Regions from separate parts of the Homo sapiens genome. Here region 1 is linked to region 2. A link means that fine-mapping ties the variant in region 2 to the plasma level of a protein whose gene starts in the linked region. Region 2 holds a variant in brackets. A gene starts in the other region. All regions are shown on their forward strands.

Region 1 (2,905 bases), not on the chromosome of region 2:
GGCCACAGCGCGTTTTCATCATTGTCCGCAGCTTGCAGTCGGCTGGTTCAGAGCTTAGCCGGGCACATGGGCCCCTCTGAGGCTCCTGTTCAGGGCTCAGCCGTGTCTACGGGGCCCTCCGAGCTCTTCCTGGACCCTCCTCGGCTCCTTCAGTTCAGGGCTCAGCTGGGCACGTGGGCGCCTCCTTGGCTCCTCCGGCTCAGGCCTCTCCTCGAGCTCTGGGCCCTGAGTATTCTGGGCTCCTTCCTTGGTTTCCTTTGGCCTTTGGCCGGGAAAGTTGTGGGTGTCCGTGGCAGCCTGGGCCACTTCACAGCCCCGCAGCCAACCTGCGGCTCCTTCAGAGCAAAGCTGTGTGGACACAAAGGGAACGCCACTCGGAGCTGGCCTCTCCCTTTACCTGTGAGTTCCCGCCCAAGCCGGCTGCCTTCTGTCCCCTCCCCAGAGCCCTTGGGTAACTGGTTTGCTACAAGAGTGTCTGGAATTTTTCAGTTGTTCTCTGCGGAAGGGAGTTTTTAAAAGGCCCTTAATCCCTTCTTGACATTTGTAAGTTGACGCTTACACCTGGCAGCCTTGCTGAATTCTGTGTGCGTGAAGGTCCGATTCCACCGCGAGTCACGATAGAAAACCCACTCTGTGGAGAGACCAGAGATGACCGCCGCGCACACCTCCGTTCAGCACACAAACCTTTGCAGGTGTTCATAGCGGAGGCAGATTCCGTACTGGGGATAAGAGCTCACGACATGCTGGGAGGGGTTTCAGGGGCAGGGAGGGGGCTTCTGTGGCCCCAGGTCAGGAGGAGCAGCTCTTCCATCAGCAGCAGGCAGCCAGCCCAGATGCGTAGGGAAGACAGCTCCCACTTCGCCAGGCCAGAGAGCGCCCGGGGGCAGCTCTGTTCCAGTCGACCCTGCGAGAAAGGGGTGTGCGTGTGCCTGGAGCTGGGCCCCGTCCTGCCTCCCTGACCTGTGTGCTCCCACAGCCCTGAGACGGACGGCTCACAGCCTTGCGAGGCCCACACTGCACTGGGGGTCAGGCTTGTGCTCCCGGGAGTCCTGTCTGGGCTGCGTGGCCACCATCCAGAGCCTGCTGACCTGCGACTGGGGGGGCCAGTGCTCCCTGGGTTTCAGCACCTGAGAATCAGAGTGGGATCCCGTGAAACCTGGGCCCAGGCTCCCACCCACGCCCCACACCCACCCAGGGAAGCCATGAAACCTGGGCCCGGGCTCCTACACATGCCCCACACCCACCCAGGGCAGCCGTGAAACCTGGGCCCGGGCTCCCACCCTCGCCCACCGAGGGCAGCTTTGCCTTCCTGGGCATCCCTCCTCCCCCAGGCCTGGCCCGCTGCCTGTCCAAGGCTCCTGTGCGGGGTCTCCACCCACACATTCCTGGGGCGTGAGGCGCCACCACTCCCTGCTGCCCCGGGCAAAGCCGTCATTTGTTCCCTTTGACGGCCCGGGAGGCTGCCAGGCTCTCCACCCCCACTTCCCAATTGAGGAAACCGAGGCAGAGGAGGCTCAGGTGTGGCCAATCACCCTGCACATCAGAGTTACCCTGGGCAGGGCCCACTGAGACCTGGGAGGGGCCACTCGGGACCTGGAGGGCTGGGGGCTGCCCGGGCGTTAGGGGTAAAGCTCCCTACCCAACTGCGCAGAAGGCCTCAGAGGCCTGGGGGCTGGGCTTCCCCTTTCACATCGCCCTTTAGAGGCCCACGTGTGGGCATTGGCCCGCGATCTGAAAGGGGCTGTCCTGTTCCTCATGGGCGCTGCCAGCGCCACGCACTCCTCTTTCTGCCTGGCCGGCCACTCCCGTCTGCTGTGACGCGCGGACAGAGAGCTACCGGTGGACCCACGGTGCCTCCCTCCCTGGGATCTGTAAGTAACAACCTTTGAGCTCTTCCTGTTGTGGTGTGGATGGAATCTGCACCTTCCATCTGGAGAACTGGGGCCGCCCCAGGCCGGGCTTCCAGCACCAGAGCGATGGTCAGGCTTCAGCTGGACGCAGATTTCACCCCGCAGGGCACACGCAGACCCATTTGTTTGGAAGCGGCAGTCCTAAGGCAGTGCAGGTGCCTCCACGGCCCCAGCCCAGCTCTCCTGCAGGTGTAAAGGATGCAGATTCCAGGGCCCCCCATGGCCTGCAGAGGCCCCTCAGAGCAGGAAGGGCCGGGCTCTCGGGGAGCCCCCATCCCAGGTGCTGAGGTCCTTGGGTCACATGGAGCTGGGGTGGGGAGTGCCCAGGTCCCCTGTGATCCGATGGCCACGTTTCCCTCCTGGCTTCACGCACCCCAAGGGCTGGGGGTCCCACTCACTGCCCATTTTCTGGCTGTGGGGGGGGTCTGTTTTCTTCCACCTTCTCAAGGTGTTCAGAGCCTCAGGGGCCTCCCCACTTCCTCTGGGGCCTGGGGGAGTAGAGTCTGTCACCCGGAGGCTGTGTGCCTCCCCGCGACATTCCCCAGTGGCCGGGCCGACCAGGCAGGCTCTGCCTGTGGATGGGGCTGCTGAGCATGAGCGTGTGACCCCCATTTCTGAGCTGTGGGTGGACCCACCGGGCCTGGGCCAAGGTTTTCAGGAGGCAGCTCTATTCTACTCCGCCATGGTGGCCTCCCTGAAAGGGGTGAGTGTAGAAGCCAGTTCCCTCTTCTGCGAGCCCCACCCCTACCCCAGGAGGACAATTCTTGTTCAGGGAGGGTCTCCCCACCCACTTCCCCACCCCACAGTGGCCCACAGGCCCCACCCTAGAGAGTACAAGGGGCTCCCCAGGCTGCTCACTGGCCCAGCCCCGCCCCACCTGGACTGCACCTGAAAATGGGCTCAGAGAGGCCAAGTGGCCCAAAAAGACGCTGCTGGGTGGGAAGGGGCGGTGGCCTCTGTGCCCGCAGTGCCCCTCCTGCCTCAAGGGTGTTGTC
Region 2 (2,905 bases):
AATGTGAAGGGCAATGTGAACAATAATGGGTAAAATTAATTACAGGAAAAAACTACAGACCGAGTGCAGTGGCTCACTGGGAGCACTCTGGGAGGCTGAGGCGGGTGGACTGCTTGAGCCCAAGAGTTTGAGACCAGCCTGGGCAACATGGTGAAACCTCATCTCTACAAAAGAAATACAAAAATTAGCCAGGTGTGGTGGTGCATTCTTGTGGTTCCAGCTATTCAGGAGGCTGAGGTGGGAGGATTGCTTGAGCCTGGGAGGTTGAGGCTGCAGGGAGCCATGATCATGCCATCACACTCCAGTCTGTGCAACAGAATGAAACCCTGTCTCAAAAAAAAAAAAAAAAAAAAAAGATCTATAGAATGTTTGAGATTATGAGATTGAAATACCATAATTTTATAATGAAAACATATCAAGGTCAGGCATGGTGGCTCACTCCTGTAATCCCAGTACTTTAGGAGGCCAAGGCGGGTGGATCACCTGAGGTCAGGAGTTTGAGACCAGCCTAGCCAACATGGTGAAACACTGTCTCTACTAAAAATAGGAAAATTAGCCAGGCATGGTGGCAGGGTGCCTGTAATCCCAGCTACTCGGGAGGCTGAGGCAGGAGAATCGCTTGAACCGGGGAGGCGGAGGACGCACTCAGTCGAGATCGTGTCATTGCAAAAAAAAAAACCAAACAAACAAAAACAAAAACAACCATATCAGGAAGGAAAGGGGGGCAGTGGAGAGTGGGAAAAAGTTTGGGAAAATTGGTTCTGGCTCCAACTCTGATACTAAGTGGATTATGTGACCTGCATGACTTTGGACAATGAAGCCCTGTGTGTCTCAGCTAACTGGTCTGTGAAATGACAGGGGCTGGTTCTAGAGCACTGATTTTCACATGCTGTGCTCTGGGGATCTGAGGATGCCACATGGTGCTTCAGTGACCATGATGAACAGCAAGGGGAACAGACGAAGGATGTTAGGCCCCAATCTTGTTCCAATAAGGGTAGCTCCACTTCTATTCCACATAACATTTCATAGGAATAAAATGTTCTACTGCTTTTTTAAAAAGTTTGAAAACCCCTTTCCTGACTACAAAATTTAAATTAGAAGTCCCTGCTATATTCTCTCATAGTATCCTCTTCTTTTTAAATAATACTTATCATAATTTGCTATTATATGTAATTAGTTTTTATTTGTTGGTTGGTTTCACTTATGAGCTTGTAAACTTTGCGAGAGCAGGGACCCTAGTACTTGTTTCATCTCTGTCTTCATTGCATTCACAATGTGTACTGAAAACCACAATTGGAACACACTGGTTGCTCAACAAATATTAGTTCAATTATGAATGACTCTCTTATAGCTGAGCTTTTATAATTCTACTTACCATTCTTTTTTTTGGTTTTGTTTTGAGACAGGGTCTTGCTCTTTCACTCAGGCTGGAGTACGCTGGCATGATTATAGCTCACTACAACCTCAAACTCCTGAGCTGAAGGGATCCTCTTGCCTCAGCCTCCCAAGTAACTTGGATTACAGGTGCACCACCATATCCAGTTAATTTTTTTTATTTTTATATTTCTGTAGACATGGGATCTCACTCTGTGGCCAGGGCTGGTCTTGAACTTCTGGCCTCAGCAATCCTCCTGCCTCAGCCTCCCAAAGTGCT[G/C]GTACTACAGGAGTGAGCCACTGTGCCAGGCCATCTACTTACCATTCTAATCTACCTTAAGCAATGTATTGGCTGAAACCCAAAAGTGTCAATTGGTCGGGTGCTCAACTGACATGAATTTTAAATGGAAAAGATATCCAGACAAGGAATTCAAAGAAGGCTGGTAGATAAGCCATTTGGGATAGCAAAAATCTGTGAGTGGGAGGAGTAATGAGGCCTAAACAGGCACACACCCAACAGAGGCAGCAGCGCTCCTCATGCGTACTAAACACATCAGGCCAACTACGCTGTTCAATCATTCTTAGCATCTCATTTCTGGACCAAAAGAACCTAAAAGAAATGTAAAATGCCCCAAGACATTAGAGAATTTGCCAAGGGAAAGAAAAACCACCTACCATTTCATTAAAATGTGTATCTAAGTCTCTGCTGAAAAGACCACACAGAGACCTTGGGAGACAGTGCTTTGCCAGTGAACTATAAATCAGCTGCAGAAGTAGTCCAGGGACTTCCAGTACAAGGTAGTAGAGTGAGCACATGCGGAGAGCTCACCCTCCTGTGCCAAAAAAAAAATGACTTAAAGATATAAACATAAATTAATGCATAATTAATGCATGTATAGCTAGGACCAAAACAAAAAAGGAAACTCTGTTTAATGCCTAAACAAAATGAAAAAGTATCCTCTAAGGAAGAAAATGAAGAATCATAGTGGTGAGCAAGGGCTGCTTCTCAGCGGCCATGAGCCACACACACAAGGACTGCTGGCCACTTTTGAGGAGGCTGGAAGAACCTAGGTTCTGACCCCCATGGGGCCCCCCGAAAAGCAGAGAAAACAGAGCATCCAAAAAGGTCTTCAAATACCTAAGATCCTCAGGCCCCTAAAGGATAAAACAGCATCCATCAAATGTTCTGAAAAATAACCAATTAGAGGCTTTAAAAATGAAAACCATAGTTATTGAGACAAAAAACAAAACAAAACTGAATACAGCTAAAGATTGATGAACATAAAAAATAAGTTAAATGTAAAAGCTAGATCTAGAAGTTTTTTTTTTTCTTTTCTCTTTTGAAACAGGGTCTCACTCTGTCACCTAGGCTTGAGTGCAGTGGCAGGATCATAGCTGCCACTGCAACCTCGAACTCCTCAGCTCAAAGGATCCTCCTGCCTCTCAGCTTTCCAACTAGCCGGGACTACAGACACATGCCACCATGCCCAGCTAATTTTTTGTTTGTTTGAGATGGAGACTCGCTCTGTCG

Direction of the effects. Positions count from the first base shown, and alleles are read on the strand shown. Strength reflects both the effect of a copy and how common the allele is.
With allele C in place of G in region 2, the plasma level of the protein whose gene starts at base 1,431 in region 1 is lower (weak association).

Evidence for each region. PIP is the chance, under the fine-mapping model, that this variant and not a neighbour inherited with it causes the effect. Protein levels are from antibody-based Olink assays in UK Biobank. Linkage for the fine-mapping came from a reference panel and not from the study's own genotypes, which makes the PIPs less certain.
Region 1: it holds the start of MSLN, and the variant in region 2 is fine-mapped to the plasma level of the MSLN protein (UK Biobank, PIP 0.96).

The regions. Positions count from the first base shown.
Region 1 is chr16:759,304-762,208 of GRCh38, forward strand. MSLN (mesothelin) reads left to right here and starts at 1,431. Exons shown (of 18, transcript NM_005823.6): 1 at 1,431-1,518; 2 at 1,770-1,871. RefSeq lists promoters at 12-1,861, 1,367-1,847, 1,369-1,387 and enhancers at 678-1,203, 1,369-1,387.
Region 2 is chr2:25,498,515-25,501,419 of GRCh38, forward strand. The region is part of intron 9 of DTNB (dystrobrevin beta); the gene reads right to left. Among named protein-coding and RNA genes, the nearest start is that of DTNB-AS1, 79 kb to the left of the region's middle. RefSeq lists an enhancer at 596-740 and a cis regulatory region at 668-678. The variant G/C (reference allele first, on the strand shown) is at 1,655.